5 linked regions of the Homo sapiens genome follow. The protein of the gene in region 1 interacts with the protein of each later gene in a pairwise test. Each region holds a gene or a part of one and is shown on either strand. Other genes may lie near its edges. The genes, in order: ANKRD55, CABP5, BOLA2, PTCHD1 and ZSCAN1.

Region 1 (2,596 bases):
TCCCTTCCTAGCGTGTGACTTGAGCACTTTTAGAACTCCTCCAAGTCACAAGGTCCTCATTTGTAAAATGAGGATGATAATAGAATGTATCTCACAAGAAAAAGTGATTGTCAGAGTTAAATAAGATTATGCCTACAGCATTTATCCCTATTCCTGACAAAAGTAAGTGTTCCATAAACATAACTCAAAATTATTATCTCGTTGGTTTTACAAATTTCTGCTCAAGTGTTCATGGATAAATAGTTGTTCGCTAATATAAATTTTCATGTTAATTCTACACAGGAATATTTTCTCTGTAAATAATGGCTCCTGAAGTTATTTGATGTTCAGTGTTCAAAAGGATAAAATATAATGGCAAAATATCCACCAGGGAGACTGGAGATTTAATCTCCATCAACTAACATTGCTGAGGTGGCCGCTTCTGCACAGACCATCCACCATGAGATTCACTTAAACAGATGCAAGTTGTTCTTGGCTAATCCTTTTGTTTTTTCTTTTTTTCTTATGCTATTTTGCTCCAACAGAAGACCCTTAAAGTCTAGGAGCATTGCTATAGCAATTCTGGTTCTTTCTTACTAGACTGATAGGCAAAAGATCAAATAATCTTTTTTTGTTAAGGTCTTTTGAGTACTTTACCCTATAAGCTAAATGCTTTACCCTTGTTCTCCAGTTTAATCCTCATGACAAGTGGAAAAGATATACAATTATTTTCACCATTTTGTATATGAAAAAATTGAGGTGTTGAGAGGTAATATCATTTGCCCAATGTCATATAACTGAAAAGTGGGGAAGCAGGGAATCAAGCCTAATTCTGTTTGACCCCAGAGCCCAACCAAGCTCCTATTCATGACACCATCCAGTCAATTTTAAAATGGATTTAAATCACATTTGTGTGTTCCCTTCTATTTTCAGGTATCGAACATCCGTATCTTAAAGTCAGTAGTACATTGATGAATGTTTAACAGCTAGCTTTCCAGGAGAAAAATCTGTGCTTGCTGATTTTTCACGGTGTAAATACACCCACCATGGCTGATTTCAAGACACTAGTGTGATGTCAAACAGTTCACAAAATTTCTGAAAATGTAACCATCAGCTCTCAAGAGCTGGCTCACATGGTCCATGCACACACCACTGCTTTCTGTCCAAGTTAAAGAATAGGTTTCCTGAGTGCATCTACCCCATTCCGTCTTCCAGGTCAATGATTCTCCATCCTGGCTGCACTTGAATCAGCTGGGAGCTGATAAACAGCTGACACCATGCCCCACCTCCAGAGATTCTGATCTAATAACCTGGGATGTGGCCAGGAAAGCAGTATGTTTTCTAGCTTCTTAGATAATTCCTATGTGCAGCCAGGACTGAGAAACTCTGCTTTAGAAGAAAATACTCTACTCATCACCCACTCATTTCATCAAAGATTTGATGAATATATAAGAGATGCCATATCTATATTATTTCCTTTTTTTTCAACTTTAACTTTTATGGGGTGAGTAACCCAGTGTGTTTCTTTATAAAATTTTATTTAAACTAGTACTCTCAAGAAATGATTTCTAGTACCTTTTTCTATCATTTAAACAGTGACTGGTATATAACAGAAATGCAATAAAGTGTAGCTATCATTGTTTTCATTGTTATTGTTACCACCTTAAATTTAGTGATCTGTAACAACTTTGATGATTCTCTTATCCATTGCATTCTGTAATTTGCACTTGGTTGAGTCTCAAGTAATTGATGCAAATATGTTTATCTTCAGGACAAAATTTTCAGCATCTTTCCCCAAACAGACACAAAATCAGGGATCTTCCTTTCACTCGGAACAACCTAGCTCCCCTACCAGATCAAAAATGTAAGTATTATGAATCTTCCGCAGCTTCCTTTGCAAGTGTTAACATATCTAGACACAACTAAATGTTATTTCCGTTTACTTTCATTTTTCTTTTTTTTTTTTTGAGATGGAGTCTTGCGCTGTCGCCCCGGCTAGAGTGCAATGAACATGATCTCAGCTCACTGCAACCTCCACCTCCCAGGTTCAAGCGATTCCCCTGCCTCAGCCTCCCAAGTAGCTGGGATTACAGGCGCCTGCCACCACGCCTGGCTAATTTTTGTATTTTTTTTAGTAGAGATGGGGTTTTGCCATGTTGGCCAGGCTGGTTTCCAACTCCTGACCTCAAGTGATCCACCCACCTCGGCCTCCCAAAGTGCTAGGATTACAGGCGTGAGCCACCACGCCCAGCCCTACTTTCATTTTTCAAGGGAACATCAGGTGCCAACACTTATAAATTACAGGAAAACAGAGACCATCTTTAAAGCTTTTTTTTAAATGCTTATTTTTTTTAAAAAAATAACACTCCCTCCCTTTAGGAATTTTTGTGTTTGAACTATTGAAACAATAACAAGTTTATTTTTACATGTATTATTTAATGTCTTTAGGAAGGTGCTTTAAAAATTCTCTTTTAAGACTGGCCTCCTGATATCAGTTTCCTTACTATACTGGACAGATAGAAATGTACATCGCCTCTGTACTCACAGTCCATGCATTCCTAAGCAGAAAAAAAAATGCAGTTCATCAGGATTACTTTTGGTATTATTGATTTATTTT
Region 2 (3,521 bases), on another chromosome or scaffold:
TGGCCTTAAAATTTTCTAGTAGTGACGTTTAAAAAAATGTTAAAAGGAACAAATGAAACTAATTTTTAATATTCTCTTTTATTTGACACAATATATCTAAAGTGTTATCCTTTCATCATGTAATCCACTTAAAAATTATTAATTTAGCTATGTAAGTAGCATTCTTTTTATACACACTGGATTTCATAAGGCAGTAAGTTCTAAGTTCTTAGTAGGTGCTTAGCATGCTTAATTAGGATACTTAGCCTAGAAGTTTACTTAAGTATACAAGTACGTTATGCTAATTATATTAGCATACTAAGTCTTAATACAGTGTTCACGTTACACTTACAGCACTTCTCAATCCAGACAACTTTTTCTTTTTGTTTTGAGATGGAGTTTCACTCTTATAACCCAGGCTGGAATGCAATGGTGCGATCTCAGCTCACTGCAACCTCTGCCTCCCAGGTTCAAGCAATTCCCTGCCTCAGCCTCCCAAGTAGCTGGGATTACAGGCGCCCACCACCATGTCTGGCTAAATTTTTTTGCATTTTTAGTAGAGACGGGGTTTCAGCATCTTGGCCAGGCTGGTCTTAAAGTCCTGACCTTGTGATCCACCTGCATCGGCCTCCCAAAGTGCTGGGATTATGGGTGTGAGCCACTGAGCCCGGCCAGCTGTAGATCTTTATAAGAAGCTGGGGGAGGCACTTGCACAGCCAATAGGTGGAGGCCTCCTAGGATTTGAACCCATGTTTGCCTGGTTCCAAATCCTTTGCTCCCAAACACTCTACTACTCTTTATTTTCACCTTGTGTTGCTGAAAGCTCTCAGAACGAGAAGGTATTTTATCAGGGGATATAAGCAAGTCTGTTATTCTCACTGGGTCTGATATTTTTTAGTATGTCTGCAGCAAGTGGTTCGTACCAGATGACCACTTTGCATTCCCTTCTGGGATCTCAAATTCTTGGATTCTTCCTGTTACAGGCACTAAGAATAGAGGCCCTGGCCAGGCACGGTGGCTCATGCCTGTAATCCCAGCACTTTGGGAGACCGAGGCAGGTGGATCACTTGAGGTCAGGAGTTCGAGACCAGCCTGGTCAACATGGTGAAACCCCGTCTCTACGAAAAATACAAAAATTAGCTGGGTGTGGTATCGCGCACCTGTAATCCCAGTTACTTAGGAGGCTGAGACAGGAGACTGGCTTGAACCCGGGAGGCAGAGGTTGTAGTGAGCCGAGATTGCACCATTGCACTCCAGCCTGGGGACAACAGTGAAACCCCGTCTCAAAAAAAAAAAGTCCTAACATTTATTCTAGAGATGGCAGGATCTTGGATAAGATTTATAATCTTCATGAGCCTCACTTTTCTCATCTGTTTAATTGGGATACATGACTGCTTGCTTACTCCTAATGTGTTTGTGTGCGTGTTTTTGTTTTTGTTTGTTTGTTTTTTTGAGGATTAAATCAGATAAAGTATACAGAGGCATTGATCCATTGCAGGTGTTTGGAATACGTTATTTTTCTTCCCTATTTATTGATCCCACCATGGCTGGAAAAAAAAAGGTGGGGGCCTGGTTGGTGGGTGCTGTCCATGGCATTGGCTAATTACAGGCAGACCTCAGAGGGTCTGCCTCTACCATCACCAGCACCATGACACTGTTAACTCACCTCCTTGAAGGCATCCCGCATCTCCTGGACACCGATCATCCCAGCTGTTTCTGCAAGCAATTTGGGGGTCATCAGCTCCACAAAGTCATCAAAGTCTACACGGCCACCCACTGAGGAAGATGGCACAGGATTAGCGAGACCCCACAAGCCCTGGCCTTCCATTACCTCACTTTGTGCTTCGAGTCAGTTAGATCAGCTCCCTTCTCCCTGCCCTATAAGAGCCGTCTTTGACTTCCTCCCTCCAGCAGCTAACTCCAAGCTCCAAACTCATGTCCCTCTAGCCTGAACAGGAGTGGATAGGGTGTGGTATGGTGGAAGTAACTGCCTGTGTGACTTTCAGACAGTTGGTTAAGATGTTTCTCCTCCTCTGTAGACCTGTACAAAGAGGAGCATGAATTAAATGAGCATACAATTTTTTTTTCAGATATGAATACTATCATTACCTTGAATTCAACCTTGTTTAGTTCGTTACATGCCCAGAAGCAAACCCAATAGCTTTTTTTTTTTTTTTTTTTTTTTTTTTTGAGACAGAGTCCCACTCTGTTGCCAAGGCTGGAGTGCAATGGTGCGATCTCGGCTCACTGCAACCTCTGCCTCCCGGGTTCAAGCGATTCTCGTACCTTAGCCTCCCGAGTAGCTGGGATTACAGGTGCACGCCATCACGCCTGGCTAATTTTTTGTATTTTTAGTAGAGACGGGGTGTCACCATGTTGCCCATGCTGTTCACAAACCCCTAACCTCAGGTGATCTGCCCACCTCAGCCTCCCAGAGTGCTGGAATTACAGGTTACAGGTGTGAGACACTGCGCCCAGCCTCAATAGGAATTTTATTCTAGCTAAAATCTAAAAATCAGTTATGATCTCCATCCAAAAATCCATCCATCCTTTTTGCAGCTGTATTCACCAACATTAGCTCCAGCTCCAAGTTTGTTTCCAACATCCAATACAGCTCCAATCTCGTGCTCCACTGATGAATCTTAGTGGTGATAGTAATAACTACCTTTAATAAGAATTTACTGGAGGCTAAGACTTTAACTGCATCAGCATCTTTATCTCTTCCTTCTCTTCCTTTCCACAGTCCCATGAGGTAAGGAGAGAGGCATCTTCCTCTATAGATGAGGAAATGGAAACTGAAGAGTAGCGGATAACTTCACTTTTCAAAATGACTGTAATTAGTAAATAATAGAACTGAGATTTGAACCCAGACCTATCTCTAAAAGCTTTTAACCACTTCAAATGCTGCCTTCCTGAGTCGAATCTGACCTGTTTTCTTCCAGACTTCTAGTCCCTCTCATCCTCCTCTCCACCCCCAACTCTACTCTTAACCTCTACATCCTTCCCAATTCTGCCCTGATCCCTTCCCTAACCCCGGCCATCCCTCCCATTCCCTGGACTCACGGTTCATGCGGATTTGCTGGCCGAGCTCAATCAGTTCCATCTCCGTGGGCATGTAACCCATCGTCCTCATGAGATTCCCCAGATCCTTACAAGAGATGAACCCATCTCGGTCCTTATCGAACTCAAGAAATGCTTCCCGCAGCTCTGAAAGTTAAGAGAGAACTTTGGGGGAACTTGAAGCAGTCAGTGGGGAAGAGTGGCATCTCTTGAAGCTATCAATGAGGCTCCAACTAGAGACTCCTTAAAGGAGCGTACATTAGAAACAAAACAAAACAAAACAAAAAAACCAAGGCCGGATGTGGTGGCTCATGGCTGTAATCCCAGCACTTTGGGAGGTCGAGGTGGGTGGATCACCTGAGGTGAGGAGTTTGAGGCCAGACTGACCAACATGGCAGAACCCCATCTCTACTAAATACAAAAAAATTAGCTGGGCATGGTGGCTCATGCCTTTGATCCCAGCTACTAGGGAGGCTGCCTCA
Region 3 (2,518 bases), on another chromosome or scaffold:
CCACGTGCGCCAGGCGGCGCGAGGCGTGCGGGTGCTGCCAAGCCCACTCAAACTGCGGGCGGCGTACAGGGGCATCAGGGCGGCTCGGAGCGAGGGGCGGAACCCAAGCCCTCACCCGGCCGCCGCTGCCCGGTCTCCTTCCTTACCCGAAGGGCGGCCACGGAGGACGGGAAGCCGTGCACGACGAGCACCATCTCCCTGAGGAGGAGAACCGTGATGTCCCTGTCGCAGCCCAGCGCCTCAGCCGCGGGTCCCCTCCAATCCCACCCGAGAGCGGGGTCCTCATTCCCGGCTTCAGCCGAGAAGTGCAGCCCTCTGCACCTGCCCACCTCAGGCCCTGCCTCCAGCCCAGGTACCCACCTGTCCCACCTCCTCTCTCTCCTGCATTCCACCCGACCCCAGCGTGCCCACCAAGAGCCCTATGCTGGAACCCAGCCTGGATCATCACCCCCGCCCCAGCTAGCTCCTTCCCTGAGTTCCGCCGCGGAGATGCCCCGGGCACCGCCTCCCCGTCACGCTCCTCCCCTGCGACAGGCCCCGTCCCCACCACAGACGCCCCGCCTCTGTCACAGTCCTGGCCGGTCCTTCTCAACAGGCCTGTGCCCCGCGGGGTCCGCCTCCTCTGGGACGCCTTCCTCCCGGCACAGAAGGCCTCCCCCTCTCACCAGGGCCCTCGCCCGCTGGTCCGCCAGGCCCCGCCTTTTTTGCGGCCCCCATTGTGCTGCTGGACCCGACGAGCAGTGTTGACAGTGAACCCCACGTAGACGCGGCCCCGGTACCGGGGGTTCAGGCAGTAGAGCAGGTAGACGCCGAAAAAGCGCCCTGGCCTCGCCGCGACCCCCGCGGGACCCATCGGGCCTTGGGGTTCGGGAACCACAGCAGGGGGTTGATTGCCGTGACCTAGGGTCCAGGGGAGGGCTGGATCGCTAGGGCTGCAGGGTGCTTGCTTCGGAACAAGCTCTCGGGGACTATCCGGAGGCAGCCTGCAGGAAGCCGTAGCGCCGGTACGTGCCCCTCTCCTGTCTGGAGGCGGGTGTAGAAGTCCGACCGCGGAAGCCAGACTGCTGTCCAGTCGGCGAGCGCGTACCATTCAGCATCGGCTCCGCCCGAGTCCCACCTTCCTCAGGCTCTGATTGGCTGACACATGGCAAGCGCGAAAAGCCTGGACCGCTGGAAAGCCCGGCTGCTTGAGGGCGGAAGTACTGCGTTGACGTACGCCTTAGTAAGGGCGGAAGTGAGTTTTCCAGCGGAAGTGGCTCCTGTAAGGCAGCAAGGTAGCGTGGCCGGCGCCCGAGCTGGGGTTGTGTCCCTGCTGGGCTGCCGTTCCAGCTGGACTGCCGCCATGGAACTCAGCGCCGAATACCTCCGCGAGAAGCTGCAGCGGGACCTGGAGGCGGAGCATGTGGTGAGTTGAGCCGCCGGACAAGGGGAAAAGAGCTCGGGGGGCGGGTTCGGCACCATTCATATTCTTCCGCTCGGTAGGAGGTGGAGGACACGACCCTCAACCGTTGCTCCTGTAGCTTCCGAGTCCTGGTGGTGTCGGCCAAGTTCGAGGGGAAACCGCTGCTTCAGAGACACAGGTAAGGCCCTGGGAGCACCTTGCCTAGCTCCTGTACCACAACCCCAGCCACTCCCCCTACCCCTGCAACCTGACTCCCGCACTCCCCCTGGCGTGGCTCAGGGACCTTGAGGATCCCGCCTTCGTGACCCCTGCTTCGAGTATTTCGATGTAGACCCTCTCTCCAAGTACGTGTTCCCACGGCCTGGGGACTACAACCTTGGGGACACCAGTCTCTTGGGTCACCCTAGCCTCGGGGTGTGCGATCACCGCTGGCCTTTTCCTAACCCCATCTCTCGCCCCAGGCTGGTGAACGCGTGCCTAGCAGAAGAGCTCCCGCACATCCATGCCTTTGAACAGAAAACCCTGACCCCAGACCAGTGGGCACGTGAGCGACAGAAATGAGGGACTGGGATCTGCACAGCCATTAAATTATAAATCTGGACCAGCTTCTGTGTCGATGTGTGTGTGGGAGGGGTGCTGAGGCCGAGTCTAGGACCTGGCCTCTCCCTGCCCTGCCTCCGTCCATTGTTTTACCTTGGACACGTCTCTGTCCCCATCTAGGCCTCTATCCCTGCTTGTAAAATGAAAGTTCTACCGTAAAAGTCCCTTCCAGGGTCTACCGAGAAAGCCTTCTCTCTGCAACTCCGTTTAGACATCTAGGAGTCTGTACTGCCACCACCTACCCACCTCCTAGAGAGCTCAGGGTTCCTCCTCTCTGCTAGCCTTCAAGATGCAGAGATGAGAAAGTGATCGGGGTTTCAGGGCCCTGACCAGTTGAACAAACCTCTCCCTGACATTACCGCAGTATCAGAGGCACCATATAGAATTCCACATATTCCTTGCAGGTTCCCCCCGGCCTTCTCAGGCCCAAGAGGGAGTGGTGCCCAGGTAGGGGCTCATCAACTCCTGGAATGCTGATGTTTTCAGACCCACTGGAGAAGGTTCCAGTGGCCCCAT
Region 4 (3,521 bases), on another chromosome or scaffold:
TCCTTAAAAATACGAGAAGGAGAAGTAAGCTAACAGAAGTTATTTGTTTTCTACCTGAGTGTTTCCAGTCCCTTGGCACAAAAGCCAGGGAAATGTGAGATGCTGGTGAGCTGATCAACTTTGACTTTGTGGGATGTGCCATCTGGTACCTGATTTCGGGGCTCAGTGTGAGCCCCAAGTGATACTTGAGATAGGCTTAAAGCAGACCTTTGAAGTCACCTGCTTGATAGCACATCACAGCAAGCAGGCCTGTCTGCAGCACTGCCTGTGTCTCCGCCACATACCCGGAAGGCCACAGAACTACCGAGGAATCCTGCCAGACTGATTTAATGACCAGCAGGGGAGGTGAGTAATCGCTAACCTTTAAAAGACAAGAAAAGGAAAAAAAGAAAATCAACACCAGTTGTTATTTCTTACGGGAAGCCCTGAATAATATGTTGTGCTTGCAACTTCTGAATTCATATTTTGAACAAAAGGAGGCAGTGAGGAACTAGAAAAAGCTATTTTTATCTTCTTGCTCTCTAAGAAATCCTCTTGAGAATATTGTTTCTGCTATTTTGAAAGATCCCCATTGTTAGGTCTTCCACTTTAGGTTTAATTCATAGGCTTCAAGTACAGTTAAGATGATTTATGTAAGTGCAGTCGGTTATCTTGGGAGGTGATATCAGAAAAGGCTGATAGGGGAGTGGGGAAGTAAAACAGTGAGTAGCAGGAAGCCAATCAAGAGAGTATTATTAAGCAAGTGTCTACTGTGGGCAACTGGGGCTCAGTCTCACTAGGGAACTCTGGGAGACACTGTAGAATGTGTTGGAGAAATCTCAGTTGTGGATAAAGAAGCTGAATATTTTCTCCCCAACTCCAGCCATCATCGGCTGATTCAACTACATTTAGAAGCATTAAATTTCTGGCATTTTCATATGCTGTGTTTCTCCCTATATATATATATATATATATATATATATATATATATATATATATTTTTTTTTTTTTTTTTTTTTTAAAAGAATTGGGTACAGAGCTACAGGTGTTTGTGGCAAGCAACCTTAGCATGGAGAGGTGAGTGTGAGCTGAGACTATATGGGTGGGACCCTGAGAGCATCTGCCCTAAGGGTCTTATATTCATCTAGAGTTATACATCGAGAGATTTAGTGCCCCGTTTCTAGGGAATGGATATTCATCCCTTTACTCAACAAGATGGCTATGACCCTGTCTCCATGAAGCTTACAGTTAAGAATCATCCAGCATAGCTATTTAGTTATTCCCAAGTTTGACAAGTGCCAGTGGATGCTGGTAAAGATGACTCCAAACAGGGCCTAGACACCAACAGGATGTGTGGTTTTAGATGCCAGACCTCTACATTTGAGAGGCACATATTCATTCTCACCTTTATGAATACAGAAGTCTGCAGGCCCCCATCTTCACACATCTACTTTTGTTGTTCTCCCTAAAAGTGCCCTCCCTCCTCTCTTTAAGGACCAGTTCACATGCCTTCTACTTTATGAGGCTTTCTCAGATTCATGGCTTCTTCTCTCCCTTAAATCTATTGGGCTTTCATTCTTATACACATTCTTTAATGCAGAGCTGTAGACTCTTATGTAATTTGCTATATTGTCATGTGATCGTTTCTCTTAAGAGAGGTAATGAACTCTTCAGGGGCAGGAACAATGTCTGACACTGCCAGATCTCTCCTAGAGCCTAGCATAATGTGGAGTTTGCAGCAGGTGCTTAATAAATTGTTACTGGTTTATAGCTTGTAAGATGGAAAATGTGCTCTGCCTCCCTATTGATTTATTTTGGTCAAATATAATTTTGCCTGGTAGCATGACCATGTGATTTCTTGTGCTCTATATTCATTTTTCATCTTTGACAAATCTTGGTTTCAAACTTGTTGATAAGCAATAAGCATCCATTCTGTTTCCAGATCTGCTGCCATTTATATGAGGAGAAATTCTTGGAAAACCAAATATCTGACAACCTTCTCTGGTCCAAGTACAGTTTGGGAGGGTATGAACTTGACCTCAGTCCCCAATCAGTGGTGCATTTCCATGTGGGAGGGTGGATCCCTGTGCAGTTCCCAGTGAGCACCCTGGAACCCAAGTCCCCACACTACACATTCCCTTATTTACTTAAAGAAAAGTCTCAAAACATTGGCCACACCCATATTCAAATGTAAATAGGAAACACACTTAAAAGAAAACATCAAGGACAAGTGGTTTTCCTGACCATAGCACCAGTGTTCAGGAGATCACCATTCTGATGTTGCTTAGTCCCACTCTTCTTAAAAGTTAGCCCAGAGGAACAGAAAGTATTGTTCTAAGAGGCAAACTTAAAAGAAAATGATACTGGTACAAAATCAGCATATTTCTGTGAGTTTAATGGAAACACTAAAACTGCTAATTTTTCAGCGTGGAAGATAAAGATTCCTTTACCCATTCCTCCATGAGGCTCTCCTGCTGTCACTAATACCATGGCTTTGTCAATTCTTTCTAATTGTCTCAAGAAAAAATAATGCATCTCTGCTATAGAGCTGTCATTATAAATGCTCAAGAACATTTTGTGATATTTATACCTTAATTGTATGAGGTTTGAGTTGTTGGATTTTGTTTTTGGTCTTGTGGTATAGGCAAGTAGTCCTACTGAGTAAAGATTGTTTGATTGCTCTCAGACTTTCTAACATGCACACACGTCACCTAGGCATCTTGCTAAAATACAGACTGATTCAAAGGGTCTGGGGTGGGAACTGCAAGTCTGCATTTCTAACAAGATCTGAGGTGATGCTGATGCTACAGATCAGCAGAACACACTTGGAGTAGCAAGGCTCAAATTTAACTGTTGTAAACAGAAAACTGGATTTAGAATCAGGAAAGCCAAGTTCAAGTTCCAGTTCTCCTAAGTATGTATCTTTGGGCAAGTCACCTAACCTCCCTGAGAAACACGCTCCTTATTTGCACTGGGTGTAATAGCATCTCTTTCACCCACTTAAGGTAAAGATAGAATGAGATAAAGTATGTGAAGGCACTGTGTAACCATAGCCTTCTGTAAAGTGTGTTATCATTATTACTATTTACTTTGAAAATGACTGCTATTTCCTCACATGTGCCAGCTCTTTCAAAGCCATTATTGCCTGTTGAGTAATACACATGTAGCCACTTTTTTCTTTGATCCAACAGGCAATAATGGGTGCTCAAGCTACATTCAATACTCATATTGCCAATTTGTTGGTCTTTAATGACTCCATCTGAGTCATTACAGACAATTGGATTCAACCTACTGCTGAGCATGCAGCTCCTCTACCTGCAGAAAGTTCTTAGGCAGGCAGAGCTGCGGATGGGGATGGGTGCATTGCATTCCAGCACACCAACGTGGTTCCTCTGGGCTCAGAACCTACTCTTCATGCCTGATGGGGCTTTGCACACAAAAAAAGCCTTCACTTCCTGCCCAGGGAAGTGCCTTTTGAATTAAAGGTTCTGAGAGGCTGCGGGCTCTGGTTTCAGGGCTCTCCTCACCACATCTCACAGCAC
Region 5 (4,256 bases), on another chromosome or scaffold:
CCACCCCAGTGTCCAGAACAGTGCCTGGTACACATAGGCCCTCAATAAACAGCTGTCCAGCAGATGCTGGACCCCCTGGAGGTGGGTCCTCCTCTCTTTTCTTAGCTCACACTCTCCTGCTTCTTCTTCAGCAATGAGCAGCTTCAGCTATCCTGAGCTCAGTCCCAGAGCTGAGGACCCTCCTTGCATCATGATCTCACCCCCACCTGATTTCAGATACAAAACGAGTATCTGTGGAACCCTACTATTCTGGCACATGGTTACATTGTAGACATTAATATTAAAACTTATTTATATGAAATGTTCTTATGTAAGGTTTCGTTAAAGTATATGAAATATAGGACACATTGATACTAATTCCTTGTTTTTCTTTTTCTTTCTTTCTTTTTTTTTTTTTTTTTTTTTTTTTGAGACAGAGTCTCACTCTGTTGCCCAGGCAAGGCTGGAGTGCGTTGGCAGGTCTCGGCTCACTGCAACCTCGGCTTCCCCAGTTCCAGCGATTCTCCTACCTCAGCCTCCCGAGTAGCTGGGATTACAGGCACGCACCACCATGCCTGGCTAATTTTTGTATTTTTAGTAGAGACGGGGTTTCACCATGTTGGCCAGGCTGGTCTGAAACACCCGACCTCAGGTGATCCGCCTGCCTCGGCCTCCCGAGTTCTGGGATTACAGGCGTGAGCTATCGCGCCCGGCCTCCTTGTTTTTCTTGAGTTTACATATAACTGAGGTTTCTTTTTTCTTTCTTTTTTTTGGGGGTGGGGGGACGGAGTCTCGCTCTGTCACCCACGCTGGAAAACTGGAGTGCAATGGAGCAATCTCGGCTCACTGCAACCTCCGCCTCCCCGGTTCCAGTGATTCTCCTGTCTCAGCCTCCTGAGAAACTGGGATTACAGGCATGCGCCACCACGCCCAGGTAATTTTTGTATTTTTAGTAGAGACGGGGGTTTCACCATATTGGTCAGGCTGGTCTCGAACTCATGACCTCGTGATCCGCCTGCCTTGGCCTCCCAAAGTGCTGGGATTACAGGCGTGTCACCGCGCCCGGCCGACGTCCTGTATTTTTATTTGCTAAGAGTGGCGATCCTAGTCTGGGACATACTTGTACTAAACATATTTATATTAAAAACAATGTTTTAACATACTACTCTTGGACACTGTATAAAACGGTTGCGTGTCTGGAATGCCGTCGTTTTGCCCCGCGGCCCCATCGTACATGCGCATCCCCGCAGCCGCCACCGTCTCCACTTTCCGCAGCAGCGTCCCTGACGCTGCGCGACCCGTTGCCAAGGCGACTGGAACCGCGGCCCGAGGTAACTGGAGGGCACGGCGGGGGCGGGGCGCTCATCCCAGGCGGCTTCTGATTGGCCTCGGCCGCCTCGTGCGTCACAGCCCCGCCCCTGCCCGGGAGTCCCGCAGCGGTGACTTGTCACCGACGCCCGGCGTGATCCAGCGGACCAATGGCGGCCGCCCGCGGCGCGCAGGGTGCGGGGATGGGGTCCGCCCGCGGCGTTGGGCGCGCTCGCCAGCCCAGGGGTCGCCATGACCGAGTGGCCCAGGCCCGAGCGAAGCCCGCGCGCGGTGAGTCCGCCGCGGCCCATCCGTCCCTCCGCCCGCCAGAGCGTCCATCGGGACGCCCACCCGGGAGGGTCTCGGCGCCGCGTCGGCGGGAGCTGGCCCGGGATCGCGGTCCAGGGGCGCGCGTCGGGGGAGGCGGGCCCGGGCCCGGGAGGGGGCGGGCCGGGCCGGGGTTCCAGAGCCCATCGGGAGTCCTGAGGTCGCCGTAGGGGAGGGAAGGGGAAGGCTAGAGGCCACGCGGGGCGGGGACTGGGGGGGCTGGGGCCGCCCCTTCCGCAGGGACCCCGACCCCTGTTGGCATCCGCCTGTCCGTTTGAGGCCGAAGCCCCTCTACGTACCCCCATTGCCCGCCCAAACACCGCTCGGCCGCGTCCAAGTTCTCCCTTCCACACCTGATCAGCATCCCGGGACCTATCTCCCTCCTGAACAGCCGCCCCCGGACCCATCTCCCTCCCTACCCGGCCCCTTGGGCCCATCCCCCACTGGAACAGCAGCCCCCGACCCGTCTCTCTCCCTACAAGCTCCCCCTCCCCGCCCCAGGCCCATCTCCCTCCTGAACAGCCGCCCCCGACCCATCCCCCACCCAATCACCCCACCATCCTCCCCCCAACCAGCCGTCCACAGCCGTCGTCGCTGCCCCTCCCCTGTATTCCCAGTGCGCTGCCCTTGCACACTTCCCCAGCTCGTTTATTATGGAACTCCTCCGTGTGGCATCCTAAGCTCCCAACGCCCTCCCCACTGTAAGCCCCCTTCTCAAAGCCAGAACCATTCACTGACTGGCGCAGTGAACACGTCTTCTATGTCACTAAGCATCCGGCATCAGCGGCAAAGCCCTTCTGCCCATCCCCGCAATAGAATTTGGGGCTCGGGCTGCAGATCTCAGTGCCCATGCCAGGTGAACCTGGCCCTTCCACAGGCACTGAGCCCTCCAAGTGACACTCTCTCACACACACACATCCCCAACATTAATCAGAGACCCCTACCAAAGTAGACTTCTAGGACCCCAGGGCCACCACAGCATTGCCCATGGGGGGGCCCAGATCCTCCTCACCAGCCATGTAGACCTCAGTCCCCTTCACATCATCCCAGGCCCTCTTCATCTTCCAGAAACAGCCACCCATCAGTCCAGGACTCTCATCAGCTCAGGTACCCCCACATTGGCCTAGGTGTTCCACATCAGCCCCCATATAGACCCCAGACACACCCATGGACCTCTGGTGCCTTCTGCTAAGACCTCCTCTTTACCCTCATCCCTGATAAACTTAGCATCTCCTCCCACAGACCTCAGCCCAGGACCCTGGAGGATGCTGAGGGGCTACAGCCCCCCTCCCTAGAGTCTCCAGGGTGAGCTGCCATGAGCACCTGAGAGAGTATAAGGTCTGAGGCCCCAGGGCAAAGGGATTTCTTGAACCTGTGGAGCTTCAAAATAGGCCCTTTTTTCTTATTCAAAACTACATATATAAAAGTGTGAATACAACATAAGAGAGCATTTTTGCCTGTGGCCTTGGCAGGGAAGACCAAGCTGGTAGTTTCCCAATCAGGGTGCAGGTGGCCGGGTACGCTGACTCGAAGATGGCTGGCTGGGCACAGTCCCCGTGAGTTGCCTTTCTGCCACCCTGCACCTCTCCTTTCTCCTGGATTGTAAAACCAGATGCACGAGAACTGCAGAGTGTATGAAAAATGCAGCAGAGGATGAAGAGGGAAAAATCCCATGGAATCCCTCCTTTTCACTTGTCATAAGCATTTCCCATATGGTCAAAAATCCTTCCTAAAGATGTCTTGTTTTGTTTTGTTTTTCCATGTTGATGAAGGTCACATGGGAGCCCGACACCATTTGGAGGAGATTCAGAGAAGTATGAACAGCACAAAGCACTTGGCCGCCCCCCATGGGCGTCTTCCCAGGACTCCCTTTCTATGACACTCACGCATCATCCTGCATCCCACGTTCCCTGTGCCTCATGTCATCTGTACATCATGTGTCTACTCCCCGTGGTCATGTCATAGTGTTGTGTACTGGGCACGGTTGAATACTCCCATCACATGATGGGGGAGGTAGTTGATCCCACCACGTTCAACTGTTGGGCACTTTTGTAGTGAATCTTGGTGCCTGAATCTCGCATCTTGCACGCAGTCTACCAAGTGTTCTTGATATATAAATGGCCACAGTGCTTTCCAGAAAGGTCGTGCCAATTTATATTCTCACCAGCGGATCAGTCCAGAGTACAATTGTTAAAGACAAACAAACGAAACCTCCCTGCTTATTTTTATTTTTACAACTTTTAATGTTTTCTTCAGTTATATGTTCACCATAGTCGGCTTGGAAAATGTACAAAAGGTAACTTCTTTTTTTTCTTTTCTTTTTTTTTTTTTTTTTTGAGACAGAGTCTTACTCTGTCGCTCAGGCTGGAGTGCAGTGGCACAGTCTCAGCTCACTGCAATCTCCGCCTCCTGGGTTCAAGCATTTCTCCTGTCTCAGCCTCCCGAGTAGCTGGGATTACAGGTGCGTGCCACCACGCCCAACTCATTTTTGGTTATTTATTTTTTTTGGGATGGAATCTCACGCTGTCACTCAGGCTGGAGTACAGTGGTGCGATCTTGGCTTACTGCAACCTCTGTTTCCTGGGTTGGAGCAATTCTCCTGCCTCAGCCTCCCACGTAGCTGGGATTAGAGGTGTGCACCA

Evidence for each region.
Region 2: the proteins of ANKRD55 (region 1) and CABP5 interact in binary tests that used the Homo sapiens proteins (3 or more experiments, as listed by UniProt).
Region 3: the proteins of ANKRD55 (region 1) and BOLA2 interact in a two-hybrid assay, tested with the Homo sapiens proteins (one large-scale study listed by BioGRID).
Region 4: the proteins of ANKRD55 (region 1) and PTCHD1 interact in a two-hybrid assay, tested with the Homo sapiens proteins (one study listed by BioGRID and IntAct).
Region 5: the proteins of ANKRD55 (region 1) and ZSCAN1 interact in a two-hybrid assay, tested with the Homo sapiens proteins (one large-scale study listed by BioGRID and IntAct).

Annotation. Positions count from the first base shown.
Region 1 is NC_000005.10:56,101,741-56,104,336, reverse strand, and holds part of ANKRD55 (ankyrin repeat domain-containing protein 55), read left to right. Parts: intron 1-1,750; coding exon 1,751-1,843; intron 1,844-2,596.
Region 2 is NC_000019.10:48,037,563-48,041,083, forward strand, and holds part of CABP5 (calcium-binding protein 5), read right to left. Parts: intron 3,187-3,521; coding exon 3,043-3,186; intron 1,756-3,042; coding exon 1,646-1,755; intron 1-1,645. UniProt on the Homo sapiens protein: Inhibits calcium-dependent inactivation of L-type calcium channel and shifts voltage dependence of activation to more depolarized membrane potentials. Involved in the transmission of light signals.
Region 3 is NC_000016.10:29,453,078-29,455,595, reverse strand, and holds BOLA2 (bolA-like protein 2), read left to right. Parts: upstream 1-1,342; coding exon 1,343-1,405; exon of another isoform or gene 1,406-1,482; coding exon 1,483-1,580; intron 1,581-1,863; coding exon 1,864-1,963; 3' UTR 1,964-2,003; downstream 2,004-2,518. Other genes in the region: SLX1B (structure-specific endonuclease subunit SLX1), read right to left, coding at 1-52, 147-198, 666-853; BOLA2-SMG1P6 protein, read left to right, coding at 1,145-1,405, 1,521-1,580. UniProt on the Homo sapiens protein: Acts as a cytosolic iron-sulfur (Fe-S) cluster assembly factor that facilitates [2Fe-2S] cluster insertion into a subset of cytosolic proteins. Acts together with the monothiol glutaredoxin GLRX3.
Region 4 is NC_000023.11:23,341,334-23,344,854, forward strand, and holds part of PTCHD1 (patched domain-containing protein 1), read left to right. Parts: intron 1-3,521. UniProt on the Homo sapiens protein: Required for the development and function of the thalamic reticular nucleus (TRN), a part of the thalamus that is critical for thalamocortical transmission, generation of sleep rhythms, sensorimotor processing and attention. Can bind cholesterol in vitro.
Region 5 is NC_000019.10:58,032,584-58,036,839, forward strand, and holds the start of ZSCAN1 (zinc finger and SCAN domain-containing protein 1), read left to right. Parts: upstream 1-1,441; 5' UTR 1,442-1,578; intron 1,579-2,159; exon of another isoform or gene 2,160-3,386; 5' UTR 3,387-3,428; exon of another isoform or gene 3,429-3,899; coding exon of another isoform or gene 3,900-3,910; intron 3,911-4,256. UniProt on the Homo sapiens protein: May be involved in transcriptional regulation.